Linked DNA regions of Homo sapiens: all the other regions are linked to region 2. Evidence: fine-mapped expression QTL. A gene starts in region 2. Each other region holds a variant in brackets. All regions are shown on one strand. Distances are from middle to middle. Region 1 overlaps XPO6 (exportin 6). Region 2 holds the start of XPO6 (exportin 6). Region 3 overlaps XPO6 (exportin 6).

Region 1 (10,718 bases), 70 kb before region 2:
ACTATTTAGCTCCCGACAGCTCGTTTCTTAACTAGAGACAGAGACACTCCCTACTTGCCCATATCCAGCAATGACTCCCCAACTGTATGCAAACGACTTAACAACCTAACACACGCCAGCCCTAAAGTAGACTAGCAACTGAACAGGGCCCAGGAAAGAATGCCGGCAGGGAAAAAGGCACTAATAAAATCTGCAACGTCTGTGGGAAAATTCACCCAATAAAGTCAAAATCCCACTTAGTAAACTCCATAGAAAGGTAAGATCAAACATTTAGGCCTAGAGTTTATGTTTTTGCCTTTGTTCAAGACATAAATTTCTAAAGTTACAGAAGTTCCACACTATAAATTGCTGTGACAGATCAAAATATTTCCACAATTCTCCTAGGAAAGAAAATCTACTTCAGACCAGAGGACAGATGAATTTTGTCATCTATAAATTGTCTTGCTGTGCTAAAAGGAAATTTAGAGACTTTCTATGCAAATGTAACCCTAAATTAGACCTAAAATCTTAACTGGCAATTGGCAACTCTGGCTGCAAAAAAAACCCGTATCGCTTAGAAAATTAAGTCCAAGTAGGAACCAGGCAAACATGCACATAGATCACTGATCTCCCAAAGTGTCATGTGGGAGGTGGAGAAAGTATATGGCTGTGGCAGACACTCTGGTTGCCTGCCCAATACCCATTCTCCTTCCTCAGCAAGAGAGCACTGGGTATTGAGGCCAACTCAAGGACAACATCTCCCCTGAAGATGGGGGCGGTCAACGAGAGCCTAAAAGCAGCTACTGGGTGGGACTTCTAAGAAAGCTTCTTTTGCCCAACCTATCCCACTTCTCGTTCCTACTGCCTGAATCATGGGTATGATGTCTGTAGCATCATCCAGCATCCATCTCTGACCATAAGATGATGATGGAGAGGGAAGCCACGCCTAATGGTAGAACAAATAAGTAAGAGGATTCAAAAAATTACTTGCTACTCAAAGAGACACAACTTCTCAAGGAGAAGACAATCGACAGATGCCAACCTCAAGATGACAAAGGTGTTGGAATTATCGATGACTCTAAAACAGCTATAATAACAATGCTCCATGAGGTTCCTCTATGGTCTGAATTGTGCGACTCTTCCCCCAAAAAGTACTCATTCATATATTGAAGCCTAACCCTCAATGTGTCTGTATTTGAAGACAGGGCCTATAAAAAGGTAATAAAGTTATGTGAGGTCAAAGAGTAGGGCCTTAATCCAATAGGACTGTTGCCCTTATGAGAAGATGAAGAGACACAAGGGTTCTCTCCCTCCCTTTCCTCACATGCACACAAGAAAGGCCACGTGAGCATTCAGAGAGAAGGCGCCATCTGCAAGCTACCAAGAGAGCTCACAGAAACAGAATCTGCCAGCATCTTGAAGTGGAACTTCTAGACTCCAAAACTAAGAGAAAATAAATTTCTGTTGTTTAAGGCCAGCCTGTGGTATTTTGTTATGGTAGCCCAATCTAACTAATAGAGAAGGTAAACAATATGAGAAAGAAACCTGGAACTTCAAGAAGGAAGGAAAAGCAAGAGAAATGGCAATGTCTGGGTAAATCTAATAGACTACTTCTTTCTTCTTAAGAGCTATAAAATATGAATGATGGGTACGTGTATAAATTAGAACACTGTCTGGTGGGGTTTTCCAAGTATGTATATGTAAAACCTCAATATAAAGAAGAGAGGCTAAAGGACTCTAATCTATATGGTGGTAAGGTTTCCATACCACCCTTGTGGTAAAATGTGACTCTGAAAAGTTAAGTATATATACTGTAATACCCAGAGCAACCACCAAAAAAACCCACATAAAGAAATGTGGTCCAACACTCAATAGACACACTGGAAAAGAAAACTAAATGTGTATGCAACTAACAGAGTCTCAAAATAAATGAAGCAAAAACTGATCAAACTAAAAGGAGACAGACAAATCCAAAATTATTTTTGGAGAATTCACCCCCCTCTCAGTAACTGATAGAATAAGTAGGATAAAGACAACATGTACAGGCTGGGCGCAGTGGCTCACGCCTGTAATCCCAGCACTTTGGGAGGCCAAGGCAGGCGGATCACCTGAGGTCAGGAGTTCCAGACCAGCCTGGCCAACGTGGCAAAACCCTGTCTCTACTAAAAATACAAAAATTAGCCAGGCGTGGTGGCGGGCACCTGTAATCCCAGCTACTTGGGAGGCTGAGGCAGGAGAATCGCTTGAACCTGGGAGGTGGAGGTTGCAGTGAGCCGAGATCACACCATTGCACTCCAGCCTGGGTGACAGAGCAAGACCCCATCTCAAAAAAAAAAAAAAAAAGACATGTACAAATTAAACTAGAAAACAATAACAAAAAGGTATATGGAAAATCCCCAAATATTCGGAAACTAAACAGGAAATCTCCAAAGAAATTAGAAAATATTTTAAATCAAATGAAAATTAAAATGTAACATTAAAATTTGAAGGATAGCCGGGCGTGGTGGCTCACGCCTGTAATCCCAGCACTTTGGGAGGCCAAGGCGGGCGGATCACAAGGTCATGAGATTGAGACCAACCTGACCAACATGGTGAAACCCTGTCTCTACTGAAAATACAAAAATTAGCTGAGTGTGGTGGTTTGTGCCTGTAATCCCAGCTACTCGGGAGGCTGGGGCAGGAGAATTGCTTGAACCCGGGAAGCAGAGGTTGCAGTGAGCCAAGATCACGCCACTGCACTCCAGCCTGGTGACAGAGTGAGACCCCGTCTCAAAAAAAAAAAAAAAAATTTTTTTTGAGGGATAAAGCTAAAGCAGGGCTTAGAAGGAAATTTACAGCATTAAATGCTTATATACACCACAGAGATAAGCCTATAAGCCTCAAGTTCTGAGAGTTAAATAAAATTATACATGTTAAGGCAACTACATAGTAGGTGCTCAATAAAATATATATGAATAAAGAACAAATGAACAAAGAAATGAATGAAAAACACACAGGTGATAAACAGACAAAATTCCAAGTCAGGTAAATACAAAGGATTGAAGCATATTCCTGGATAGCTTTTTCAACTCAATAAAGCAACTAAGACTCTATTCACTTGCCCTGTGGGGCAGTCAAGAGCAAGAACTAGAAAGCTGCTAGAGCTCTGATCTAAACCTAGTTCACACCTTTATTGCACCACAATGTCATGTGTAACAGTGGCACTTCCTCTTTATTAAGCAGGTTCACCCACTCCAAAAAGCAAGGAGCAGTTTTTCTCACCCTCACTCACATTTGTTTACAGTCCTATCTAATGTCACCAGAATCCCTACGTTGGTTTGTGGCCAGCACTTGCCAGAAGTCTAGTCACAAAGAGGCTCACAGAACATGACACAATGACTTTAGGTTGCTTCACACACTCAGGTTTCTTCACCTTCCTGTAAAAATAAGTTTCTACACAGGTGACTCCCTTCACATTGACAAGCACAAAGAGCCGGAAGTGAGAGAGAAAGGGGAGGTGAACCAATGCTTATTTGCTGAGCACCTACTGTCAGCCAAGGCACTTTACGCTCATTAGTTCATCCCACTTTCTCAACAATCTGTGAGGAAGGCACAACCATCCAAAAGCACAAACAAGGAAAGGGAAAGGAAAATCCGGGCCTTTCCATGCCACCACCTCAAAATACAGATCAGGATGATCTACCCCATCGGCCATTCCACTCTGCAGGAATGGCTACAGAACATTTACCCCATTAACACTGGGGCTCAGGCTCTCTCAAGTCCCCACAGTCTCTCATCAAGAAATTCCTCTCACACCTGTAATCCCAGCACTTTGGGAGGCCGAGGCGGGTGGATCATGAGGTCAGGAGATCGAGACCACCCTGGCTAACACGGTGAAACCCCGTCTCTAATAAAAATACAAAAAATTAGCCGGGCGTGGTGGCGGGCACCTGTAGTCCCAGCTACTCGGAAGGCTGAGGCAGGAGAATGGTGTAAACCCAGGAGGCGGAGCTTGCAGCGAGCCAAGATCGCGCCACTGCGCTCCTGACCAGGCAAGTGAGCATGCAGAGCTCCAATTTCCAAGCTCCTAGGACCAAAAATAAATCTATGTATATTTGTGCTTCTAAATTTGTAGCCTACAATGCTTACCACTTTGTTGTGATGAATGATGCAAAACCTTTAAACCACAGGGGACAGGAAATGAGTGCTGCCTTTGTGACTTAACCACACCTACATTTCCCATTTAAGACAGCAAGAAAACATTTTTGACTACTTCCTGCAAGATTAGTTGCTTCTGAAATATGATTCCAGAACATCCCAACTTCTCTCTGGTATATTTTATCAGTTGACAAACATTTGATCACATGTGCATGCTCT[T/C]AGTTAACATAAATGTGGTCATCACCAGAAGCCAGTGTTCTTCAGCAGCTGCTCCTGCAAAACAGCATATCTCTGATATATTAAGAGTCTCTCATAGTCTGGAGTGGTGAATGTTAAGGGTTACAGAAAAAATTATAAGCTGAAGTTGAAATATTTTCTTTGTGCAGCCCACTGGACTAACACATGTTCTTTGTAGTCTACTGTCTTAGACCACTAAGGGGTATCTGACAGGACATGCAGTTCCCCAGACGGTGGTTACTATTTAACAGCACTAACCAGAGGAGCTTGGAGGGGTTTTTGTTGTTGTTGTTGTTTTATTTTATTTTAGAGACAGAGTCTTGCTCTGTCGCCCAGGCTGGAGTGCAATGGCATGATCATAGCTCACTGTGGCCTCCAACTCCTGGGCTTAAGCAGTCCTCCTGCTTCAGCCTCCTGAGTAGCCGGGACTACAGGCATGCACCACCATGCCTGGATAATTTTTGTATTTTTTGTACAGACAGAGTCTTGCTATGTTGCCCAGGCTGGTCTCAAACTCCTGGGCTCAAGTGATCCTCCCACCTTGGTCCCCACAAGGAGCTGGAACTACACGTGCACACTACCATGTCTGGCTAATTTGTTTTTTAAGTTTTTGTAGAGACAGGGTCTCATTATGTAGGCCGGGCTGGTCTCAAACTCCTGCCCTCAAGTGATCCTCCTGCCTCAGTCTCCCAAAGTGCTGGGATTACAAGAATGAGCAATGGCACTTGGCCTGTTGTTTTATTTTTCAAAGGCATAAAGGCATTATATGAAAGTGTTATGTTTAAAAAAGAATAAATCATGAAAAATTAAAAAGCCTCATTTAGGATGATAATCACATGATCAATGAGAAAAATTCCCACTGTTTCAAGTGGTCAGCCAGAACAACTGACAACTGTGACATTAGACAACAGATGCCAGGGCAGGCAGGTAAACATCTGCAGGTGGGCTAAAGGCCTTTAGACTGTCCAGGGGCCATGCCACCTAACGCTACAGTCACAACCACAGTCTAAAGGCAGTAACATCTTCTATTATTCATCATTGCTGTTGTCATCACTGTGACCATTTACTGAGTGCCTAATACATCTAGATGCTGTGCCAGGTATTTTACATACATGATTTCCTTGAATCCTAACCATCCTGCAAGAGAAGTGTTAAGTACGTCCATTTTGCAAGAGGAAATGTGATCAGCATATAACTTGACCAAAAGTAACACGGCTAGCCTAAAGCAAAAAAAGAATTTAAATTCTCTATACCACTGCTCTATTAGTATAATGATCTGCAAAAGTGTGTGTTTAATACTAATAATCTGCTAGTATATATTTTCTCAACAGGACCATATTCTTCACATCTCTCATTTGTACTTTGTTTTTGTTTTTTTAAACAGTCTCATTCTGTCGCCTAGGCTGGAGTCCAGTGGTATGATCTTGGCTCACTGCAACCTCTGCCACCCGGGTTCAGGAGATTCTCCTGCCTCAGCCTCCCAAGTAGCTGGGATTACAGATGCCTGCCACCACGCCCAGCTAATTTTTGTGTTTTTAGTAGAGACAGGGTTTCACCTTCTCAGCCAGGCTGGTCTTGAACTCCTGACCTCGTGGTCCCCCTGCCTTGGCCTCCTAAAGCGCTGGGATTACAGGCAGGAGCCACCGCACTCGGCCTTGTACTGTTTTTTAAAAAGCATTTTCATATTAATCATTTCCTCAGTTTATTCTCACAACAAGCTTGAGAGATATGAAGGAATATCTACCACTAAATATAGAAAAATGAGGCATAGTCCCAGAACCAAAAAGATATGCCTATTTAGCATGCAAGAAAGATTATTTTGGCAAAAGTAACTTTTCCTTCAAGAATCTCATTTCAAAAACATAATTACTTAAAGTTGGCAACTTCACCAAAAACAGGATCTCCTGTGTGTAATACGATTTCTGATATATGAACGTACTACCTATAATCACACATGTGACCTGACACCATAGCAACCTGGAACTTATTCCACAATTACAAAAACCATCTTTGGGAACAAAAGAACAAATGTTTAAACTTGGAAAATAAAATTCTCAACAGAATATTTGCATATTTATTTATTTTAATTTTCAATAGAGACAGAGTTCAGCAAATGGTACCAGTGACTGGTACCAAGAGACACAAGGAGTCTCACTATGTTCCCAGCCTGGAGAGCAGTGGCCAGCCACAGCGTGATCACTGCACACAACAGTTCTGAACTCCTGAGCTCCAGCGATTCTTCTGCCTCAGCCTCCCATGTGGCTGAGACTACAGGTACATACTACCACATCTAGGTCCTGTTTAGAATTTTTTAAACTCATAAAACCTCAGCAATGGAAAAGCCTTTGGAGTTCCAGCCCAACCTTTTCTCTGCAGTGGAGTCTCTCCTCTCCACCTTCCTCCATTTGGTACATTTATGGGGAAAGAGTATTCACTAACACCACCACCAGGTGAACACTTGCAGTGTGCCAAGCATTCTAAATATGTTAGTTCGTTATTTCAATTAATGTCTCAACAACTATTATTTTCATCCTCATTTTACAAATGAGGAAACAGAAGCTTCCACAGGCTAAGTACCTTACCCAAGTACCCCTAGGTAGGAACTACAAAACCAGGATCCAAACATAGGTCTGTGCGATTCCCCGTCATGGCTTCCACTCGACAGAACCCCCTCATGCACTGGTTTTACAACACAATGACCACCTAATCTGAAATTGCTCTTATAAATACTGTGCAAAGAAGTAGGAGCTATAACCAAACTGAGTAAAATCTGCAGGCACTCTGTTAAGTATGATAAAGTACTTAGGGCTAGATCACCTAGTTTGTAATCTCATAGCATAAATATACAAATTACACGAATCAGTTTTAGTTTATTAGGAAACTACTCTGATCCTAAAATGCAAAATATAGCTTCTTTGCCTCCTTCATGACTGCCTGCTCACTGTGTGACTGGGATGCAGTCACCTACTGAGACTATGATGGGTATGTTTCTGCTAAGAAAAGCTGCCACATTTACTTTCCCCATATATGGATGCTGCCATTATTTTCCTGGCATGCTGAATCTCCACCTTCCCCTCCTCTTCTCCCCACCCTGTGGCACAAAGAACATATTGTACAGGAAATATACTCTCTTCCTGCAAGCAAGAAAAATGGGTTTGAGAAACATATGGGGGGGGAAACAAACCATTCCGCATTCTCTGTTTTTTAAAAATACAACAAAAAGTGCAAAAGCAATTATCTCTGGGGTGTGGGATTATGTTTATCTTCCTTACATTTTCCTATATCTTTTCCTAGATTTAAAAATGAACACCTTTTTCTTAACAGGTATTTATTAATTTATTTAGGAAATTTTCAAACACATACAAATGGGGTAAGAACATAATGAACCCCAAGTTCCTAGGAACTAACTCCAACATCAATCACCAACACATGGGCAGCCTGTTTCTTCTCTACAGGAACCCACTTCCCTTCTACCCCCACTGGGTTATTTAAGCAAATCCCAGATGTCATATCATTTTATCCAATAAATACTTCAGTTTGTATCTCTAAAATAAGGGCTATTAAAAAATTAAGAACATTAACACAAATGCACTAAAATATAAAAAATTAGTAATACATATTACTTTTAAAATTTTAAAAAGTCTTAACAAAATACTTAAAGGAGAAAAAAAAGGAAATGCTCAATGGCATTATTGCCTAAACAGCTTACATGACTCAGCTTCACTGAAAAGGTCCAAATGCATGGCTGTCTCTTAGGCCACTAGAATAACTGGCAAAATGACCATATCTAGTTTTCAGTGTTTGAGGAGTTTACCTGTTGAGAACTGCTTCCTTGTCTCCAAGACGACTTTTAATTTTACTTGTCAGATAGTCCAAAAACAGCGTCCAGATATCCAAACAAGAGAAGTAACCTTCATGAGTAGGCTATGGTACAAAAAAAATCCAGACAATGAAATTATTTAATGCTACTATTCCTTAGAAACACACACATGCCAGTGTTTAATTCCAGCAGAATGATGAAATCATAAGCCTAGATTCCCCAGTTTCCTGGTAACCAAAACTGGTGGCTTTTAGTCGGTCTATACCATTGGGCCCTCCTGAACCTTACAAGACAAGGGTACCATGGAACACATCATGAGGGAGATACTGTGCAGCATAAACTGAGTTATAAAATAAGTCAAGCAAAAACCTATCTTAAAATCTGAGACTGGTAGAGAGGGCTCTTACAGATCATCTAGTTTAAATCTATTTTCCAGAGAGAAATCGAGATTCAGAGATATAAGTTGTTCAAGGCCAGAGGTAAAAACAAGTCCCTTTACCCCCAGCCAATGCTCTTTCCATTACAAACCATTACGAAAGCAAAAATCAGTTTCAGTGGCTCCAAAGGTGACAGGTTCACACATTTGAATGTAAGGAAAGTAACACTTGCAGTCTTCCTACAGAACAGACTGAAAATGAGCTCATTAAGTCTGACCCTCAGGGCATTATCCCATTTGCAAAAGCAAGGGTGTCAAACGTGCTAATAGCAACCTCCAACCAGGTGCTGATGTGGAGGAACAAAGTGAGAAGTCTTTGTAGGATCCTAGTAGTACAATGAAGACCACTGCACTAGTTAACTTTCTCAAGGGCTCTGAGACTCTATTTCATGCAAAGTCCAGGCAACACAATCTCCAACAGCTACTCCTTCCCCTATGCATTCAGGTTCAACTTGTGGCTCCAAACCCTGATATCTCCACTCAAATGCTCACTACCTGAAAGACTCCTTTGGTTTTGCTGGTGGCTGTCTCACTGGACCACATATTTGGTGACAAGATCAAATATGAAAATAAATAATAACATGACCTTCTTGGATCAGTTTCTTTCCATTGCTGATCCACATGGAAATCTAGACGTTTACAAGGGCATACATGGAGGTGCCCAAGAAATAACTAACAATGGGTGGTGGTATCCAGTGGGAGTTCTGTACCTAAGCTGAAGTCTGAGACAGAATAAGTGTAACTTGGCTGGGCGTGGTGGCTCATGCCTGTAATTCCAGCATTATGAGAGGCCACGGCAGGTGGACTGCTTGAGACCAGGAGTTCGAGACCAGCCTGGGCAACATAGTGAGACTCGGTGTGTATATTTTAGAAAAAAAATTAAAATAGGAAAGGAAAGGAAGAAAAAGAAAGAAAAAAGAAAAGAGTGTAACTTAAAAAGCCAGGCAAATTCCAACTTCACGACCCAAAGGGTAGCTCTGGAACTAGACAGGACCAACCTCAGAAAACAAAATGACCAAGTCCTGTCTCTACCTCATACTTGGCAATACTGACAATATCCACGACATGAAGTGAACCAGGAGAATAACCAGGAAAAACAATGAATAAGCCACATGGAAATGATACGGCAGCCAGACCGAGTGGCTCACATCTGTAATCCCAACACTTTGGGAGGCCCAGGCGGGTGGATCTCTTGAGGTCAGGAGTTTGAGACCACCCTGGCCAACATGGTGTAAACCCTTTCTCTACTAAAAATACAAAAATTAGCCGAGCATGGCGATGCACGCCTGTGATCCCAGCTACTCGGGAGGCTTAACAGGAAAATCGCTTGAATCCAGGAGGCGGAGGTTGCAGTGAGCTGAGATCGTGCCACTGCACTCCAGCCTGGACAACAGAGCAAGACCCTGTCTCAAAAAAAAAGAAGAAATGATATGAGTAGTCCTTGGACAGGCCACTAGACTTGCCCATCCAAGAGACACACTCTTGTCCTAGGTTCAACTTGCTGAGCTTCCCTCAAGTCAATCACCAAGGTTATCCCTCCTTGGTTCAAAACTATCCACTAGCCCCCTCAAAAGAGCACAGCTCATCAGATGCATATGGAAGTGCCTTTGGGAAAGGTTACCACATAAATCCAAGTATTATGGCTCCGTCAAAGTACTTTATAATTATACATATAAACTTCATGCATGTGAATTGAGGACTTGCTATATGCTCAAGGCTGGGGGAAAGGTGAGCAGACACACCCTGTATAACCTGAAGCACCACCTTTCACATCCATTCCTGCAGGCCCCACTGCGAGGGCTTGTGCACTGCCCACAGGCCGCCCATGACCTGGCCTCTGATAGTTGCTGTGGACATGGTTCATTCCGGTCATCAAGATGATGGGCTGGCTCCATTTTTGAAGTCGCCTAACTTTTCAAAACCTTCACAGACCCATTTTTAAAATGGACCTAGACCCCAATTTACTTTTCAGATTCCAGGGCTACAAATCCAGGTTTCTTTAAGAAACTAATGATACCATTCTATCTTCCAAGTGGTTTACAGTGTTTAGTTTTCATTTGCATTGGTCTATGTGATCTTCATAAGTCTTGGAAAGTGAACAAATATTTT
Region 2 (10,718 bases):
CAAACAACATACAGGTGGAAGACTCTCCTGATCTTCCTTCCCATGAGGCAGCACCCAAAGAGCACAGGCTCCGGAGTACAGCACTTTGGGTCTAAATGCCAACTCCACCACTTGTCAACTAGGAATCACAGAGCAGGTCTGTCCATCTCCCGCTCTGGCAGGAACAGCCATAGTGGAACCTAGCAGAGTTGGTGGGGTTTACTGATACTGAATGACTAAGAGAAAAACTTGGCCAGGCGCAGTGGCTCACGCCTATAATACCAGAACTTTGGGAGGCCAAGGCGAGTGGATCACCTGAGGTCAGGAGTTCGAGACCAGCCTGGCCAACCTGGTGAAACCCCATTTCTACTAAAAATACAAAACAAAAAAAAAAACTAGCTGGGCGTGCCTGTAATCCCAGCTACTCAGGAGGCTGAGGCTGGAGAATCATTTGAATCCAGGAGGCAGAGGTTGCAGTGATCCAAGATCATGCCACTACACTCCAGCCTGGGTGACAGAGCGAGACTCCGTCTCAAAAAAAAGAAAGAAAAAACAAGTAATGAGTGAAGAATAGCTAGCACATCAAAGATGCTTAATAAGTGGTAGTTTTTATCACATTACGCCACTTTCAAGTCTTATTAGAGTTGAAGATTTAAAAAGAAGATGTTAAAAGGGCTCAAACTTATGCCAACTAATACCCTTAAAAGTAAAAATGTTAAGTCAGCAAGAAATGGAGAGGAAATAATTTCCTGGAATAAAGAGCTGGGATCCCAGGGAAAAGACCCTCCGCCTGTAAGACACCAGCCAGGCAACAGTTTCCTTACCTTTGGGGGACAGGGCCTACCCTACCCAAGCCCCTGACCCTGGGATACCTACAGATGAACCACTGTGTCAGTGACACAAAAAGGACAATCCTATTCACATCAACTATGGCCACCCCCTGTGTACTTAAATAACTGAGGTCTAGGTGACAAAAACTTTGACTTGCAACGTACCTCAGAAAAAATGCACATGGAGTTCATGAAGCCAACTACTTTACAATTCATTACTCAAAGGTGGTCATTCCCATGATGCTCTACTGACTGCCAATTAAAATGAAACCTCAATACAAGGGTGCTGGGCTAGCTCAGTCAATAACAAAATTCTGTCCAAGGGTCCTAAAGCAATGCTGTAAGTTTCCCAAGGGGAGGAATGTGTGTCTTGTTCATCTGTACATGCCCTAGGCCCTGGTATATGGTGGTGGCTACTGAAAATTCACTTGTAAGATTTGTACACCCATATTCACAGCAGTATTATTCACAATAGCCAAAGGGTGGAAGCAACCCAGGTATCCACCGAAGGATGAAAGGATATATGAAATGCAGCACATACTCACAATGGAATTCAGCTTTCAAAAGGAAGGAAGCTCTGACACACGCCACCACACGGATGAAGCTTGAGAACACTGTGCCATGTGAAATAAGGCAGTCACAACAGGCCAAATACTTCATGACTCCACTTACATGAGCTACCTAAAGTAGTCAAATTCATAGAAATAGAAACTAAAGTAGGGCAGGGGAGAGACTGAAAAAAGACGGGTACAGGTTGTTTTGGGAAAAAACCTTTGGAGATATATGGTGGTGATCGTTGCACAACAATGTGAATGTTCTTAATTTCACTAAACTGTACACTTAAAAATGGTTAAAATGGCTAATTTTAATTATGTATATTTTACTACAATTAAAAAACAAAACTTAAGTATATTGAGGCCGGGCGCGATGGCTCATGCATGTAATCTCAGCACTTTGGGAGGCCGAGGCGGGTGGATCACCTGAGGTCAGGAATTCAAGACCAGCCTGACCAACATGGTGAAACCCCATCTCTACTAAAAATACAAAATTTAGCCGGGCATGGTGGCGCATGCCTATAATCCCAGCTACTCGGGAGGCTGAGGCAGGAGAATCACTTGAACCCGGGAGGCAGAAGTTGCCGTGAGCTGAGACTGCACCACTGCACTCCAGCCTGGGCAACAACAGCTGAACTCCATCTCAAAAAAAAAAAAAAAAAAAGCATTACTGAAAGAATAAATGAAGGAAGGAATGAGTGCTACTTTCATTAGCCACTAAATGTTATACCTCATACCTCTAGATTACTCTTTAGAGAAATCCTATCCCCAAATTTCATAGTTGAGGAAATTGGAACTGAGAGCTTAACTGATTTGCCACAATTCATACTGTGTAATATATATGTTAAAATACATAGACTCAGCTGTGCACGGTGGCTCACGCCTGTAATCCCAGCACTTTGGGAGGCTGAGGAGGACGGATCACTTGAGCTCAGGTTCAAGACCAGCCTGGGGAACGTGGTGAGACCTCATCTCCACAAAAAATTAGCCAGGCATGGTGGCACTTGCCTGCAGCCCCAGCTACTTGGGAGGCTAAGGTGGGAGGACTGCTTGAGCCCAGGAGGTCGAGGCTGCAGTGAGCCATGAACGTGCCACTGCACTCCAGCCTAGGAAACAAAGCAAGACCCTGTCTCAAAACAAATAAAAATAAAACACATACACTATACGTATAGCATATACTGTACGGTGCTGCTCAGCATTAATGGTGTACTTTACCCAGCTGGTTGTAAGCTCCATATCTCAGGACCTACACACTACCCACAGGCCCCTTGAATGTTTCGAAAATTCCACAGGCCTTAAGGTCTGTATCACAAAAGATGCAGCTATGTCCCTTTCTCTATTATACCACTAACTTGGCAGGGGTAAAATGGGTGAAACTGAGGAGAACAGCTCCACTCCTCGAGGTGCTCAACCACAGGCTAGGTGATCCAGTACTTACCAAGGGCTTACTATGTGCCAGGAGCTGGAGCAGATAAGGGTTCAAACAATTTGGTCTTTGAAGGAGCTGTGTATACCGCAATAGACAGATAAGGCTCAGAAATAATTACAAGAGCAAAAAGGCAAATGCTTAACAAAGAGATGTGGGTACACACATTTAGGGGAGTATTGAAAGTATCGGTCTAGAAAACGTGGAGATGTGGATACACAAAGAGATGTGAGTACACACATTTAGGGGAGTATTGAAAGTATCGGTCTAGAAAACGTGGAAGGTAGCTTCAGCAGAGATCAGAGCATGTAGAATAGCAGCCTCAGTGTCAAAAGATCACGACCATTCCTGACTTTGCCATCACCTGTGCAAGTGACCTCTGTAAATCGCTCTGTTTCCTCATATATAAACCTACAGCTAGATGAGATGTTTCTCCTACAATCACCCAGCTCTCTAAGTGTATTAGAGATGCCTAGGTTCAAAGTCAGATGCCTAGGTTCAAATCTTAACACTGTTAAAAAGTCGCTTGACCTTGAGCTGGGGAATTAATTGCTCCGTGCCTCAGTCTCCCCACTTCCGAACAGAGGGCTGGTGTGATCATTAAATACTACTGCACTGTCAATCACTTCGCGCAGGGCCTTGGCAAGTAGTAAGCCCTCAATAAACGATAGTTATTATCCGGAGGAGCTGCAGGAGGCAAACACCAGATGCAAGGGTTGTGCCTGCTGCGCTCCCAGGGCCCTCCCAGGCCTGAGCCATCATCCCTGGGGGGATGGGAGCGCAGGGCCGGGGCTGCACACTCTGCACGCATGTGTCACCGGCCAGGCTCCGCACGCGCCTCTCCCCGCCATGGGGAGAGCAGCGATGGCTCAGCAGCCCCGGGGCCCATTCCCACCCTTCCGGTAGGGCACCCCAGGAGGGAAGGGGGCTCCAATTCCACTTACCATGCTGGCCGGGGAGGGGGCGGCTCAGATGAGCTGGTTCTTGGGCTTCGGACACGTCCCGCTCGCACAGTTCAGGTCATGGTCCCGGCAGACTCGGGAAGTCCCCCACCCATGCAAAGACAACCCCTTCCCCACCGGGCCCCGAGGGGACCCTCTAAAAAGGGCAGGGCCGCCCGGGTCGCCTCATCGGGGGACCCCGAGACAATTCATCCAGACCCACCCGCCCCTCCCCAAGGAAACTGAAAAAGCAGGAAATGAGGCTCGGATGCCGGCGAGGAGGGCAGCTGCTCGGGACCCCCGCCCGGGCCCGACCCCCGCGGGGGAGGCTGCGGGCCCAGGCAGGGGCTCCCCGGCCTCCGCGGGCAGAGGTGGCGGCGGCCCCGGCCCCGAGGCTGAACGGGCGGAGGCTGACAGGCCTCGACCGCGCGGCCCAGGCGGCCGGCTCAGGGGAGAGGCCCGGGGGCCCGCGCTGTCCTCGCAGCCTCAACCCACACGGCCACTGCCGCCGCCCCCTAGAGCATCCTTGCGCGCGCCCGCCCTGGAGCCGCCCGCTAGTACCGCGCGGCCGCCCCCGACCAACAGCCCCAACGCGCCGGAAGTGGCGAGCGCCGGGCGGCCCCACAGCGCGGCCGCCGGGCTGCGGCGCTGGAACCGGACCAATCCGGAATCGAGCGGGGCGAGCGGGGGGAGCGGGCGGAGGGCGGAGGGCGGGGCTGCACCTGACGGCTCCCACTGGCCCCGCCTTCTTACCACGCCCTCTCTTGCCCCGCCCCCTGCGCCCACCGCCCGTGCGTCCACGCGGGCCGGCAGCCATCTTGGTAAAGGGAGCCCGGGCTGCCATTTTAGTAAAGGCGTGGTTTCCCTTTCGCTTTTTTCGCCCATTCATTCCGCTAAAATTTTAGTGAGTGCCTTTTACGGGCGGAGCATCGAGCTGGCAGCGTGACGACACGCGGCCCTATGGAGCTTACATTCATGCAGTCCACACACTCTTGCCCGACTATATTCCAGGCCCTGCTGTGGATGCTAGGACAGGGGAGATAAACGTAACTTCGATAGCCAAGGTGCTGAGAGAGGCAGAGAATGTGTTGGATTCCTGTTCCCATCCTCCAATCCACTTTACTCGTGAAAGTGCTCATCTTTATTTTGTTTTATTTTTGGGGACAGGTTCTTGCTCTGTTGCCCAGGCTGGAGTGCGGTAACACAATCATGGCTCACTGCAGCCTCAACCTCCTGGTGCGCCACCATGCCCAGCTAAATTTTTTTATTTTTTGCAGAGGTGAGGCCTCCTTTTGATGCTTGGGCTGGTCTGGAACTCCTGGGCTCAAGCAGCTTTCCTGCCTCAGCCTTCCAAAGTGCTGGGATTACAGGTATGAGTCATCCAGCCAGGCTGAAAGTGCTAATTTTAAGAAACAGTCAGGAAACTATCCCAAACAGCTGAGGTTGAGCCCGCGGGTGTGCCTACTACATAGATTGGAGCAAATCTATGTAACCCAATGGCCCTTGTCAACCTTAAATAACGAGATTGAGAAAATAGTATTTAAGTATAGGGTTTATTCAAGCCCGAAGCTTGAAGATGGCCCACCAGAAGTATAGTCCAATTAGTGGCAGTTACAAATGGGGTTTCCTTGTTTGTTTGTTTGTTTTTAAGACAGGGTCTTGCTCTGTCGCCCAGACTAGAGTGTAGTTTGTTGTTGTTGTTGTTTGAGACGGAGTCTCGCTTTGTCGCCCAGGCTGGAGTGCAATGGTGCAATCTCAGCTCACTGCAACTTCCGCCTCCCGGGTTCAAACGATTATCCTGCCTCAGCCTCTCGAGTAGCTGGGACTACAGGCACCCACCATGATGCCCGGCTATTTTTTTTATTTTTAGTAGAAACGGAGTTTCACCATAGTGGCCAGGCTGGTCTTGAACTCCCGACCTCAGGTGATCCGCCAGCCTCGGCCTCCCAAAGTGCTGGGATTACAGGCGTGAGCCCTCCCGCCTGGCTTCAAGTGGGTTTCTAAGGAAAAAAGAGGCATAACATAAGGTTGAATAGGAATGATGAGAAAGGGGGAAAAAATAACATAAGCTATTGCCTATACATTGTTCTTTGTATCACAAATTTCAGGAACCTGAAGGAAATGGGGGAGGCAGCTAGTCTGGAACAAAATATCTTTAAACAATTGTCCCCGAGCATGTGGAGGTGGGAGTGTGCCCGAACTCCCATACACAAGTCTCAGTGGACCTGACAAATTTTGCATACTTCACATAACTCAGACTTCCCTGAGCTATTTTTCTTTCCTGTCAAACCTCAGTGTGATCTGAATCAATTCACCCAGAAGGACTGTTAAAACAAAGATTACTCGCTCCACTCATAGACTTTCCCATCCAGTAGGTTTGAGATGGGGCTGAATAATTTGCATTTCTAACAAGCTCCCAAATGAAGCTGATGCTGCAGGTCTAGATACCACATTTGGAGAACCACTGATACAACACTTTACCACTGAAAGCAATAGCTTTCAGGGGTTTTTTAGTTTTTTGTTTGTTTGTTTGTTTGTTTGTTTTTGGAGAAAGGGTCTCACTCTGTTGCAGTGACATGATCATGGCTCACTGCAGCCTCAAACTCCCAGCCTCAAGCACTTTTTTTTTTTTTTTAATGAGACAGAGTTTCGGTCTTGTTGCCCAGGCTGGAGTGCAATGGCATGATCTCGGCTCACCGCAACGTCCGCCTCCTGGGTTCAAGCAATTCTCCTGCCTCAGCCTCCCAAGTAGCTGGGATTACAGGAGCCCACCACCGCACCCAACTAATTTTTTGTATTTTCAGTAGAGACGGGGTTTCACCATGTTGGTCAGGCTGGTCTCAAACTCCCGACCTCAGGTGATCCACCCGCCTCGTCCTCCCAAAGTGCTGAGATTACAGGCATGAGCCACCGCGCCAGGCCATCAAGCACTATTTTTTTTTCTCTTGAGAGGGAGTTTCGCTCTTGTTGCCCAGGCTGGAGTACAATGGTGCAATCTCGGCTCACTGCAACCTCTGCCTCCCAGGTTCAAGCAATTCTCCTGCCTCAGCCTCCCAAGTAGCTGGGATTACAGGCACCTGCCACCACACCCAGCTAAATTTATTTTTGTATTTTTAGTAGAGACGGGGTTTCGCCATGTTGGCCAGGATGGTCTCACCTCCTGACCTCAAGTGATGCGCCCACCTCGACCTCCCAAAGTTCTGGGATTACAGGCATGAGCCACCATGCCCAGCCTCAAGCACATTTATTTTATCAAATCTTTATTGTTGTCCACTAAGTGACAGTCACTATTTCAAGGATTCAATGCTGAGCAAAACAAATATATGTGTGCCCTTATGGAATTTAAAGACAAATTATTTGTAAAATATTGTACAATAATGGATCAGTTATTGTGATAAGAGCAATGAAGGAAAAATTGAAACTAACATGATATAACTTTAATATAGTTTACACGCTAATAAGGCCAAGGGATCTAAAATAATCTGGCAGATTAGGATGGGGAGGAAGTCAGGAAGTGACATTTCTTTAAGCTTTGGCCTTAAAGAAGCAGGAGTTTGCTAGGCAAAGAGAGGGGGCATAGAACATTCCAGGCAGTAGAAACAGCATGTACAAGAGAAGCCATCTCAGTAGGTAAGCTGATGAATCGGAATGGAGGCCAAGTCACTTACTTGGCTTAGTTTAGTAGGATGAGTGAAAGCTTTGGGTTGAGACTCATTTGGAGTGGAATCCAGCTCTTAACTTCACTAGCTAAGGTATCTTGAGTTATTGACTCTCGAAGTCTTGGTTTCCTTACTGTAAAATTGAATGAGATAACAGAAATGCAACTGACTCACTTAAGGGTATGCCTTTGGGTTACATAACTGGACTTCCAGAGATTCATTAGCTTTTGGCTGGGTGTGATGGGAGGCCTAGATCCATTCCTCTAGGATTTTCTTTTTTTTCTGTGTGTGGTTTTGTGTGTGTTTGTTTGTTTGTTTGTTTGTTTTGTTTTGTTTTATTTTTTTGAGACAGGGTCTCAGTCTGTTCTCCATGCTAGAGTGCAGTGGCGCAATCACAGCTCACTGCAGTCTCGACCTCCCAAGCTCAAGCAAGCCTCTCACCTTAAACTCCCAGTTAGCTGGGACTACAGGTGTGCGCCACTATGCCCAGCTGATTTTTTTTTTTTCAGCAAAGACAATGTCTCACTGTGTTGCCCAGGCTAGTCTCCAACTTCTGAGCTCAAGTGATCTGCCCACCCCGGCCTCCCAAAGTGCTGGGATTACAGGCATGAGCCACCACGCCCGGCCATTCCTCTAGGACTTCCTTGCTCTGCTCTTCTCCATTATCAGACTTGTTGTCAAGGTGGTTGCCAGGAACAGCCAGGGCCACAAAATTCCCTGTTCAAATCCAGCAAAAGAGAGCACCTTTTGGCCGGGCACAGTGGCTCACACCTGTAATCCCCAACACTTTGGGAGGCCAAGGTGGATGGATCGCTTGAGGTCAGCAGTTTGAGACCAGCCTGGCCAACTGGTGAAACCCCATCTCTACTTAAAAATACAAAAATGAGGCTGGGCATGGTGGCTCATGCCTGTAATCCCAGCACTTTGGGAGGCCGAGGTGGGTGGATCACCTAAGGTCGAGAGTTTGAGACCAGCCTAGCCAATATGGAGAAACCCCGTCTCTACTAAAAATACAAAAAATTAGCCAGGTGTGGTGGCGCATACCTGTAATCCTAGCTACTTGGGAAGCTGAGGCAGGAGAATCGCTTGAACCCGGGAGGCGGATGTTGTGGTGAGCCGAGATTGCACCATTGCACTCCAGCCTGGGCAACCAGAGCAAAACTCCATCTCAAAAAAAAAAAAAAAAAAAATTAGCTGGGCATGGTGGCAGGCGCCTGTAGTCCCAGCTACTCAGGAGGCTGAGGCAGGAGAATTGCTTGAACCCAGGAGGCAGAGGTTGCAGTGAGCCGAGATTGCACCACTGCACTCCAGCCTGGGTGACAGAGTGAGACTCCATCTCAAAATAAAGAAAAAAGAGAGAGCACCTTTCTCACATCCTTTCTCAAGCCAAGAAGCTTTCCCTACTGATCCTAATTGGCCTAGGCCTAGTCCCCCGGATCTAGCCGTAGTGAAGGAGGGTGGAACTGCTATGAGTGGCTTATAGAATCCCCTGGAGTTGCTTTCAATTCCTCAGAATAAACTGGATGTGTGGAGTCACCACATCATAGCTCCATTGCCAGGCTGGGGTGAAGATTTAATTTAATGTACATAAAACACCTGGCACATGAGGCATGAGATAAGTCACAGCTATTATAAATTTGACTCCAGGGATTTTGTTCAAGTAAACTAAATAACATTTTGTTATTAATATTAATCTGAAGCCTGTCTTATTCCAAAAAAAGATTTAAGGCTGCTATTACTTTTAGTTGGCACTGCAGGGATGGCCCCCAGCCATCTCTGCCTGCCTATTTCTATTGCTACTGCCTTGATCGCCTGCATTTAGTTATTCATTCAACAAACTTTCAGTGAGTTAGTATTAGCTTTGTGCCAGGCCTTTTGCTAAAAATGAAGTATTTAAAGTGAATAAGAATCAGGCAAATTGTCCACTGTCTGGGTCAGCAACAGCCACCCAAATAATTACAGCACATTGTGAGGTGTGTATGAACTTCCTAAGCGTACGAGGAAATGGGGAGGAAGCAACAAAGATGGTAACCTTTGGGTTGGGTCTTGATGGACGAATAGAAGTTCACCTGGCTGCTGCAGTCTTCAGTCCTTTTCCTACTCCAAGCTGTCTTCCACTGTGTCCGTTTCATTGCAAGTAACAAGGTGGGGACCCTAAAGTTTGGACTCTTAACAGTTGAAGAAGAAAAAAAGAATGTATTGTCTCGTAAAACGCCATCCAAAGGTTTGGATGAATTTCAGATATGGTGGATTCAGGGTGTGAATATCACAGAATTCAGTTTCTCTCTGTTCGTTGGTTCTGCTTCCTTGACTGGGGGTCATTTATCCTCATGGGCCCTGGCATATCTAGGCTTTCCCTTCTTCCAGGTTGAAGCCTGGTGGAGAGAAGGGCATATGCATCTCCTACAAATGTCGTAGAAAAATAAACCCTTTGTCTTTGATTGGGTCACATGCCCACTCCTGAACCAGTCACCATGGCCTGGGGAGTGTGATGCCCTGATTGGCTAATCTTGGGTCACATGTGCCACCAAGCTCCAGAGTAGCTCTTTCAATGGCCAACATCTCTCTCTCTCTCGAGCTCTCATTTTTTTTTTCATTTGTTTGTTGGTTTTGAGACAGGGTCTTGCTCTGTTGCCCAGGCTGGAGTGCAGTGGCTCAATCATAACTGACGTAGCTTCAAACTCCTGGGCTCGAGTGATCCTCCCACCTCAGCCTCCCGAGTAGCTGGGACTACAGTCACTGTGCCCAGCTAATTTTTTTTTTTTTAATGACTAGGGAGACGAGGGTCTCCCTAGGGTGGTCTCAAACTCCTAGGCTCAACCGGGCATGGTAGCTCACGCCTGTAATCCCAGCACTTTGGGAGGCCAAGGTGGGCAGATCACCTGAGGTCAGGAGTTCGAGACCAGCCTGGCCAACATGGTGAAACCCCGTCTTTACTAAAAATACAAAAATTAGCTGTGCGTGGTGGCAGGCACCTGTAATCCCAGCTACTTGGGAGGCTGAGGCAGGAGAATTGCTTGAACCTGGGAGGTGGAGGTTGCAGTGAGCCAAGATCACGCCATTGCACTCCACCCTGGGGACAGGAGCAGGACTTCGTCTCAAAAAAAAAAAAAAAAAAAACTAGGCTCAAGCAATCCTCCTGCCTCAGCCTCCCAAAATGCTGGGATTACAAGGGTGAGCCACTGTGCCTGGCCTCCATAGCCAAGATCTGTCTGAGCCCCACGACAGCTCTGTGAGGATCTCAGAAGGAAGAAAGGGTGAGAGTCTGGCACCCTCTGTAGGTGATGGGAACACACTGTCTGCATAGCCTGGCATTCAAGGCCTTTGAA
Region 3 (10,718 bases), 58 kb before region 2:
TGGCCTACACCACCTAGCCTACTTGTGTGATGGACTCTCCCATCTAGGCTTGCGTAAGTGCACTCTATGATGTACACACAACGATGACATCACCTAACACATTCATCAGAACACATCCCTGTCAATTAAGGGACGCAACACACGACTGTACTAAAATTTGTGAATTTTAGAAACAACAGGCAAGAATATTAAATATATTTATATAACCCTCTAGACGAGAGAAAGACACATTTTCCCACATTACAGGTAATAAAGCTATGAGAGAGTAAGATCATACTTGTTAGTGAACAGATGAGAACTTAAAGCTGTCTCTTGAGATCATTTAATTTCTTATTCTTAAGTCTTATTCCAAAGACCTCCCCTATAAGCAGGCCTTGGTCCTAGAGTGCACCTTGCCACCTTTTCACCATTCTACCTCCCCAGCAAAGGGCTGTCTGCCCTGGTTTACCCACAGTAAGCTGGGACAGTGTACCTTTCAGGTTCCTGTCCCTCTACCTAATGCTCAGAATCTGATTCTGTCTGGACGTCAAAGACATACCTACTCCCACAGGTGGCCAGCCTGCTCCCAGAAAGGAAGGTCCTCATACAGGAGACAGGAGAGCAGAAAGGAGCTCATCTGACGATTCCAGGTACAGAGAGGAGGAAAGAAGCTTGTGGTTTGCTTCATGAGCATACTTTTTCCCCAATTACTTTCCCAATATATAAATATAATATATAAATATATAAAACCACCATTTTCAATTCGATGACACATAGGAGTCTACTGAAAGAATCATAAAAAATAAGCCAGGGGAAAGGCCTGAAGATGTCCACTGCAGTCTATTTTCTTAGGTGAGGAAACTGAAATCTAAGTAAATTTAAGGTTTCTCCAAGGACACAGAACTAATAGAAATAAGCAGACCTCAAACACAAAACTTTTGGGTCCAATCCAAAGAATCAGGCATAAGACATGCCTACTTTAAAAGATGTTTCACTTTCTTCTATACTATACACACCAGAAGACCCCATTTTACATAGAGAGTGAAATGTCAAGACATTGTCATTCCATCTCCCCCAAGTAAGCCTCCTGTTTCTGGCCTCAGAACTGGCTCCTCAGCTCCCTCATTTCTGTTACGCTATTTAACACTCACTCAACATTCTCTCAAATCCTCTTTTTTCATGGTCTCCTTTAAAATTCCTCTGGATGTCCCAAAACTGTTCCACCTCTGATGCTTCTCCCCTACATCCTCACCCTCCTGCAGTCACTTCAAGTTCTCCTGAGGACTATGACCTCGGCACGGCTCTCCTCATGCTCTGCACGCACTTGCCCCTCTACCTGACACCTCTGAGCTTCTTCAAGTTTTGGCCTTCCCTCCCCTGCTCCCAGGACTGGCTCATCCTTACCACTGGGTCCTCTTCTATTTTCACATGCCAAGATCTTCCTTGAGAAAGGACAGCTTTCCCAACAAACCCCTGCTCCAAGTCATATACACAACCCTCCTAGCCTAGACCCTTGCCTTTCCTCTAGACACATTAAGCTACAACACTAGTGGTTAAAAAAAAAAAAAAAAAAAGGCTACTTCTAAAATCAAATGTCCTCAGTGACCCATTAGTTTCATCCCTGGTACATATCAACTAAAACAGCTATCTGTGTACATCCAAAAGCACGTACAAGAATGTTCACTGCAAGATCAGTAAGCACTGGAAGCAGCCAAATCAGCAGGGGAGTGAACTTGCAAACAATGACTTAACAACAGCACAACGAAAATCAACACATGACTGCCACACACAACGCAAACGAAGCTCACAAACACGATGGCCAATAAAAACACAGATAAAACATACATTATGTGCTTTCATTCAGAGAAGCTCTAAAACAGGCGAAACTAGTCTGTGGTATTAAGGTCAGGCCTGGGGTTACTTCTGGGGAGAAACGAGGGGAAGTGATTGGAAAGGACATGAGGAGATTTCCTGGTTGCTGGCAACAATGTACTTCTTGACTTAGGTGATGGTTACATGCATATGTCAATTTGGGGAAAACTCATCTAACTACACCTAAGATTTATGCACTTTTCTGTATGTGTGTCATACTTCAATAAAAAGCTTATTTTAAAAACACACAGCTGGGCACGGTAGCTCACGCCTGTAACACTGGCACTTCAGGAGGCCCAGACAGGAGGCTCACTTGAGGCCAGGTGTTCAAAGTCAGCCTCGTCAACATAGCAAGACCCAATGTCTACCAAAAACTTTAAAAACTAAGATAAAACACACACCAACAGGCACGGGGGATAGGATGTGATAGAAATATCTAAAATTGTACTGTGGTGATGTTTGGACAGCTCCATGAATTCACTGAACATCACTGAGTTATACAATTACAATGAGTGAATTTCATGGTATATAAAATTATACCTCAATAAAGCCACATATATAATTTTATATATTTTTTATGTGTGTGTGTGTGTACACACACATACTAGAATGACTAGGGTCACTAGAATGTAAGTAAACTCAATGCAGGCAAAGACTGCTTGTGAAGGTTGTATGTCTAAATCCTGGAATACAATAGGAGCTCAAAAAATATTTGTGAGGGGGAGAAAAACTTGGACACTACCAAAACTTAACTCTTGAGAGCTTCACTATATATAATCTTCTTGAAGGAGGTTTCAGTGGCAGTTACAGAACAGAACTAAAGGCCGTAATTTCAGACTTTTCCTTTCTTTTGCTTTGTTCACATAATAGTGGTCAAGAGCCCTGACTCTGGGTTCAGATCCCAGCTCCACCACTTACTAACTGTATGACTCTAAGCAAGTTACTCTTTGTGCCTCAGTCTCTTTACCTGCAAAACAGAGATGACAATGGTAATAGAACCTACTTCACAGGGATGTTAGGAAGATTAAACCTGTGACTCTTCACATAATAAGCATTATATTAATGTTTGGAAAATAAAGTTGAAAGAAAAAGTTCTTTCTTCTCAAAGTAACAAGGTAATAAACCTTTTCTCTGGAAGGGAAGGATGACTTTGGTGCTTTACCTGATGAAATGTGTACTTGAACAAAAGTGTCAAAAACTCCACCACAGGGAACTGGGAGTAAGACTCGATTCTTCTTAGGTGAACACTCACAAAGAGCCGAAGAAAGTCAGTAAACTTCTCGATATAGCTAAATGAGACAAGACAAAAGGTGACAATAAGAAACCCAGCCACCTCCTTAGAACTTAAATTCAATCCAAAGTTCTTTCAGTACAGAACTATACAAATTTGTAATATATTTTCTTTTAAAAATATAAAGGCCTGCAACAATTACCTACAGGACAGGCAACCCTTCATTCCATTAACCACCTGAAACATAGCAGAAAAGCAACTTTAATCCTCAGACACTGTCTGCTAAGGCTTCTTATAATCTAGTGCGCTCACATTTTCTAAGTCATTTGTGTTGTGACCCAATTAAAGTGAAGGGAAATGATAAAAAGTTGATGGGCAGATCACTGTGTCATTTCAATCTGGCAAGTCTAGAAGGCTGGTTTTCTTTCCGGGAGGCCAAAATACTAAAGTGAATGGTGCTAAAGACACAAAAACAAAACCAGGCTACGAAGGGCATGGCATCCAGGTAAGATGTACTCAGGCTTGCAACTTAATGGCCATTTTTCCCCCTTTGGTTCCTGGTGCTAATTAAACACAGCACAACCCAATACTCTAAAAGTGATTTCAAATATAAGGGAGGAAGGCTATTAGAACTGGGCAAGCCTCAGGGACTTTAGTCTGATGCTTCCGTTTTGCAGATGAAGCCCAGAGAGGTAAAGTGACCAGCCCAAAGTCACTCAGCCAACTCATGGCAGAACAGGACTATCATCCACTCCCAATCCAGTGCTCTTTCTTTTCACTTCACAGTGAATCCCCAACTCATTTGTATTCACAAAATCATTTCACAGAAGAGTATGGGTCACAGCTGCAAGGATAAGAGATCTCTGTTATTAAATACACAGCACATCATCACTCTCACATTTCAGAAACTGTCATTTTAAGCCCCTAAATACCAAAAGGTGATTAGAAAATGAGATGGCCATACCTTCATAAATCACATTTCAGAGACCAACACAAAAAGGTAAAGACATACTAGGCCTTAGCTGAAAATGAAATAATGGCTAAAAGCAATTCTGAAGCTCATTACTGCAAAAGCTATTTTTCAAAACAGAGATATGTGAAATAATAAAAGCAGAGAAAACTACTACTCAGAAAAGCAAAACTGGCCCGGAAATAAAATGTCCCATGTTGCTCCTGGGACCTATCTCCCTGAGGGTGGCCAGCCTGCCTGCCTGACCTCTATGCGGCCGAGCTTATTTGCAGCTTTTTAAAAAATACATATTAATTTGTTTTGATAAAGAGAATGGCTGTCTCTGTGGATCATGGGGCCAAGTACTCGAAAAACAGTAAGGCACTAAAATCAACTGTTTTTAGAGACAGGAACATACAAAGACACTTCTCTCTGGTGTCATCAATCACTAATACTCAAGAGTAGGAACTCCTTCCTCACTCACTTATGTACCGCATGATAGTTTTACATGGATATTCAAAGTCACCACCCAGCTGACTGTTCTTTAGGAAGGTGCACTCAATTCCCTACTACCCATTTAAAAAAAAAAAAAAAAAAAAAAAAGCCATGGGCTAAATACAGAACAATCTCAATTTTACTTTAGTATCTAACCCAATTTTTTAAAAATACAAACAAGGCTGTTCAGTAGCTAAAACTACAGATTTTATTTCACCTCATTTTCTTTCCCTTGCCCACCTTCTGGTACAGGTGCTAATGAACAGTAGAAAGTTAGGGGAAAAGGCAGTAGAGGGAAAGAGAAGCCAAGGATCTGGTTAGCAGCTCCTAAACAACTGAGAATGGACTGAGCTGTTTAGAATTAGTGGTAGGGGACCCAGAGCCAGGAAGCAAGCACACAGCATTATTTATGTCACCTTTCTGCTCCCAGGCACCTCTCAGCTTTCACAGGGCAATAGGAAGCACAGGATTAAAATGTAAAACCAAGAGCACAAAAGTTACACGTAACAACATCAGTACATAGACAATCCATAATGACATTTCTATACCATCCAAATGGAAGCCACAACAAAGTTGTCTGTGACTACATTATGATTAAAGTCAAAACAACTGATATTTGATAGTTGATACAAGCAGCTAGATTTTTAAATTAACATATGAAGAGATAGACATGAGACACACAGATCATTAAAAAAAAGGTAATACAGCCTTTCTTAACCACAGACAGAAAGAATATGAAAGTGTGAATAATGATGCCTTTGAATTCATATGGAAAGCTATCACCAAATAATTTTTAAGAACATATTACCATATCAGATTGTGTTCTTATACAGAGCAAACATCACGGTTTTACAATAAACCAAACCAAAATAATCTTATGTACCAATTTTTTAATTTTAGAAATATTTTACAAAACTGCCCAATTTAAAAAGCACTACAACTTTCAACTTTATGCACTTGATTTTATATTCTGCTATTTACTCTAAGGAAAAGAAAATAGCTTAATTCTATATAGCTTAATAACAAAGGACAATCTAAGGAAAACTGAGAATATTAGCAACTTTTGCTGCCATGTCATCTGTAAATATTTACTAATTCGATACGATTTATTGCTTGAAAGTCCCTAAACCGTCAATCTGATTGTTCATAATATAAGTTTCCAAATTCCCTCCTGTTTTCATACAGCAGCAGTTGTAAGATACATAAATGACCTCATCTGCAAGAGACATAAATCATGAAACCCTGCCTCAGAGTACTGTGATGGAGTCGTCTTTTAGAGTGCTTTTAAAAAAAAAAAAAAGTAGGTCATTGTAGGCTCCACTTGAGAGGACAATAACAAAGAAACACAGCTGTGTGCTACATTAACCTGTGCACACATTAACATCCCTCCTATAGTTTGATGAAAACTTGCCATTGGTGTAAAACTCACAATAACAACAACATTCCTGAATACTGCAGGATGTTCACTTGGGAAAAGTCAAATAGTAAAAACTGACACCAAGTGACAAAAGGCGATTATAACTCCTGTACCTCCACGGACCTCTTCTCCTGTTCTTGGCTACGCAGGAGCAGCAGTCTCAGTCCCTGCACCACCTCAGACCTGCAAGCAAATAGTAAGGAAAAG[G/C]GGGCAAGAGGAGTAGAAGGGAGGACAGGAGATGGATGGGGAGAAAAGACAACAAACCTACACAAGGCACAAGCATTTTTCAAACTCAGTCACTTCCCTTAACCACCCAAGCCCTTCCAGCTAATCTCAGACTTACTGGCACACACCTACCTTTCTGTTCCTCACCAGGAGCCCCATATTCTGAAATCAAAGAGGATTACAGATGCCATGCAGCACAGCATGGTAAACAGTCAGGGCCCTTTCTTGGGGCACACCAGCTCCACACTTGGTTTCATTACCTCTCATCGAGCTCTTCTAGCCTGCTCTTCACTGTGTGGGCATTGTTATCCTTGGTGATTTTCTGCAGGAGGTAGAAAGTCTGCTGGAACATACGCAGTAAATACTCCTCAAATTCCATAGGCACACAGTTCTTGGACATGAGTTCATTGATGCAGGACATGGCCAGGACCCCCAGCCGGCCGCGCTCCTGACCCGAGACACAGTTCTGGCTGCTGCCGTTAACTGACGCCATCTTTCTGGCCCGGATGTCACAGCCAAATCGTGCAAAGTGGAAGATGGTGGTAAGGAGGGATGGGGTGATGCTGGCAGACAGAGGAATCCAACTGAAGAGATGGGCCAGGCACTCCAAAGCCAGGGAACAGATATACTCACTCTCCACATCAAGGATGGGAATTGGCTGATTCAACAGTTTGGCTGAACTGGGACTCTGCAACAGGTTACTCAGTAAGTCACCTGAAAATAAGAAAGGCTTTTAAGCTATCCAGCATCAAATCTCTTACAAATGACTTTAAGTAATTCTCCTTCAAAAAAATATATATATATATGTATACATATATGTATCAGTTTAGTTACCTATGAAATAAAAAAATAAAATCTATATGCTCAAAGTTAAACACTAATTAGGAAATTTTAACAGTACAGCAAAAATAAGATAATTGATTATGATTCTTAGTGAGGGGGATCTGGATACAATCTTTAGTGTTTTGACTCAAATTTAGTTTTAGTGAGATTTGTACAACAGCAGTTTCCCAGGAGACATAAGTGAAGAGAAGATGGGATTATTCTCTGGCTGCAAAACCCCAAATCCACTCAAGTTTTTGTTTTCTTGCTACTGTTCCCCCAAATCATGACCTTGCTTTTGAAAAGCATGATACATGACCATTAAATAAATAAACAAATAAAAATCCCTAACACCACATACAAAGTTGGGCACCAAATGAAGTAAAGACTTAAACCAAAGATAAAACTTTAAAGTTAACAGAAGAAAATATAAGAGTATTTGAAATATAAGAGAGAAAAAGACTCCTTAAAACTACCAAAAAAGAAAACCTTAACAAAAAATACTGAGGAATATAACAAAATTAAGATTTTCTAATCAAGGCTGGGCGCGGTGGCTCATGCCTGTAATCACAGCACTTTGGGAGGCCGAGGCGGGTGGATTACCTGAGGTCAGTAGTTCAAGACCAGCCTGACCAACATGGTGAAACCCTGTCTCTAGTAAAATACAAAGTTAGCCAGGCATGGTGGTGCATGCCTGTAATCCCAGCTACTTGGGAGGCTGAGGCAGGAGAATCGCTTGAACCCAGGAGGTGGAGGTTGCAGTGAGCTAAGATCACGCCATTGCACTCCAGCCTGGGCATCAAGAGCGAAACTCCATCTCAAAAAATAAAAAATAAAAATAAAAAAAGAGTTCCTAATCAATGAAAAACATTAAGGGAAAGTTACCAGGCAGACAACAGACTGTGAGAAGATATTCACAATTTCTAACATCGAAAAGGACTAAAAACTAAAATCTATTTTTAAAATGCTACACATCAGTAAACACAACAACCCCAGTACAAAAACAGGCAGTTGATATGGAGAGACAATTTTCAGAGAAAGAAACTCCAAAGCATATGAAGAGATTTCAAATTCATTAGTAATCAGAAAAAGCAAATTAAAAGGAGTCTGAAAAAATGTTGGCAAATGCCAGACGTCAAGTACAAGGAATGGATGCAGGAACCTTCACAAGGCGGTGCAGGAAGAAGGGCCATTCTGAGGAGGACCTGGCACTCTGGAGTCCTATTAAACATTCACATATCCTTTCACCTGACCATTCTCCTGGTATGCTCCCAAAGCAACCCTCACACGGGTCCATGAAGGGACAGGCGTGAGGGGGAGAGCTGGAGGCAGTCTGGCCTCCTCCTTGGCGGGAGAGGATAGGGAATGCAGAGTCAGGTATCATATCACACAGTGAGCAGAAGTAGAGGACTAAGGCACAGACGGGCAACAGCTTGGAGAGACCTTAAAAAGATACAGTTAAATTAAAAGTAAGAAACAGAATGACAGTTTTACTATACCACTTACATATTAAAATACATGGACACAAAACAGTAAGTTCTTACAAGAACATGTTACCAAACAGAAGACAGAGGTTATCTACATTAAAATGGCTGTTGATTACGGGGAAGGGAGTCCACAAATTCAAAACTATTTTTAAAGGAATACTAAGATGTTCTTTTCCTTTTTCACTTTCATTATCTCCAAGTGTACAATGGAGCTTTCCAGAGGCTACATCACATGGGATATTGCAACAGATGAAATGCAGAAGCTGCCTTTCACTAAGCCACATGTTAGAGATTTGCAAAACTGTAAAACAACACCACTCTTCTCAGTGAATTTTTCTGTTTGCTTTGAAAAATATAGTTATTTTTTATTAAAGCATATTATCTGTTAATATGTAATGGGTTCATCACAGATATTTTTAAATGAATTAATGACTATTTGTACATTTTTCTCAGTTTTTCTATCAGCAGATATAACTTACAAAGTGTTTTGAGGACCTCAGTAATTTTTTAAGAGTCAAGGGACCCCAAGACCCAAAATTGGAGGACCACGGGGCTACTCTGTGGACCTGGACCAGTAATGTAATCAGGGAACTTGTCAGAAATACAAATCATCAGGCCCCATCCCACACCTACTGGAGTAGAGCCTGAAGGGGTTGGGGCCCAGGAATCTGTGTTCTTATAAGCACTCCAAGTGATTCTTATGCTTGCTTGATTTTTGAAAGCACTAGACTAAAGGAAATCAAACAAAATGAAACAGGGGAAAAAAAGCTATAAAATTATTTTAGAGAAGACAAAAGAAGAAAAATATTTAAAACTATAACAACAGGCCAGGAGCGGTGGCTCACACCTGTAATCCCAGCATTTCGGTAGGCTGAGGCGGGCAGATCACTTGAGCCCAGGAGTTCAAAACCAGCTTGGGCAACATAGCGACACCCCGTCTCTACAAAAAATACAAAAATTAGCCAAGCATGGTGGCACATGCCTATAGGCCCAGCTACTCAGGAGGCTGAAGTGGGAGGATCGCTTGAGCCCGGGGAGGTCAAGGCTGCAGTGAGCTACGATTTTACCACTGCACTCCAGCCTGGGTGACAGAGCAAGACTCTGTCTTTAAAAAAAGAAAAAAGAAAAGAAGAAAAAAAACTATAACAAGAAGAAAAATTTCCTGAAATTTGACATGACTCTACAACATGAAAGGGTTTTATCCTGTTCCAAGAAAAAAATGATGAAGAGTGATCAATACTAAGAATGTTTAAAATGAGGAAGCAGTGTAGGCAGAAAAAGTACAGATACAAAGGAGAAAACACCTCAGTCAGACTTCTCCACAGTAACATTCACAGCATGGGGACATTCTCTCAAACACGCAAAAACTCAGGTAACTCCACAAATTCTTCTCAAGGAGGATAACAGACAAAGAAACCACACAGATAAAGAGATAAATCAAAATAAAGAATTAAGGAATGGAGAAGCTGTAGCAAAAGGACACACTGGCATCAAATTACATAGAGACTCAAGACTAAACAGACGTAGGAATTAAGAGGGTGCGCTAGCTAACTTTCCCATCTTTCACAAGGAAGAAGTCTCAAAATACATGGTCTAAAATTAAACATGGTGGCGGGGGGAGGTGATACATAAAATTCAAACATGTAGTACAAAATTGATTTTTATCATTTTTTCTTAACCATAAAGGTATCTTTTAGAAATTAGTATTTCTTGTAGAAAAAGCACCTCAAGGTCAGCAATTCCTTAAGTTTAACAATTTTTGTTACGTTTAGGTAAAACCTGGCCGGGCACAGTCGCTCACGCCTGTAATCCCAGCACTTTGGGAGGCCAAGGCGGGCAAATCACTTGAGGTCAGGAATTCGAGACAAGCCCGGCCAACATGGTGAAACCCTGTCTCTACTAAAATACAAAAATTAGCTGGGCGTGGTGGTGCGTGCCTATAATCCCAGCTACTCGGGAGGCTGGGGCAGGAGAATTGCTTGAACCCGGGAGGTGGAGGTTGCAGTAAGTAGAGATTGCACCACTGCACTCCAGCCTGGGCAACAGAGCAAGCCTCCGTCTTAAAAAAAAAAAAAAAAAAAAAAAAAAATCAAGTAAAATGCTGGGTACTGTGGCTCACACCTGTAATCCCAGCACTTTGGGAGGCTGAAGCGGATAAATCACTTGAGGTCAGAAGTTCCAGACCAGCCCGGCCAAAATGGTGAAACCCCATCTCTACTAAAAATACAAAACTTAGCCGGG

The links. PIP is the estimated chance that this variant, and not a neighbour inherited with it, causes the effect.
Region 1: its variant is fine-mapped to the expression of XPO6 in whole blood (TOPMed, PIP 0.99).
Region 3: its variant is fine-mapped to the expression of XPO6 in whole blood (TOPMed, PIP above 0.99). The same link has a PIP of 0.9 or more in breast, esophagus mucosa, pancreas, skeletal muscle, subcutaneous fat and sun-exposed skin.

Annotation. Positions count from the first base shown.
Region 1 is chr16:28,137,927-28,148,644 of GRCh38, forward strand. It overlaps XPO6 (exportin 6), which reads right to left. Exons shown (of 24, transcript NM_015171.4): 9 at 8,168-8,277. Among named protein-coding and RNA genes, the nearest start is that of XPO6, 69 kb to the right of the region's middle. RefSeq lists enhancers at 3,700-3,749, 8,643-9,158. The variant T/C (reference allele first, on the strand shown) is at 4,336.
Region 2 is chr16:28,207,633-28,218,350 of GRCh38, forward strand. It overlaps XPO6 (exportin 6), which reads right to left and starts at 4,333. Exons shown (of 24, transcript NM_015171.4): 1 at 3,734-4,333. The coding sequence starts at 3,736. RefSeq lists silencers at 1,276-1,570, 4,081-4,570 and an enhancer at 3,453-4,451.
Region 3 is chr16:28,149,646-28,160,363 of GRCh38, forward strand. It overlaps XPO6 (exportin 6), which reads right to left. Exons shown (of 24, transcript NM_015171.4): 7 at 6,429-6,882; 8 at 3,014-3,140. Among named protein-coding and RNA genes, the nearest start is that of XPO6, 57 kb to the right of the region's middle. The variant G/C (reference allele first, on the strand shown) is at 6,151.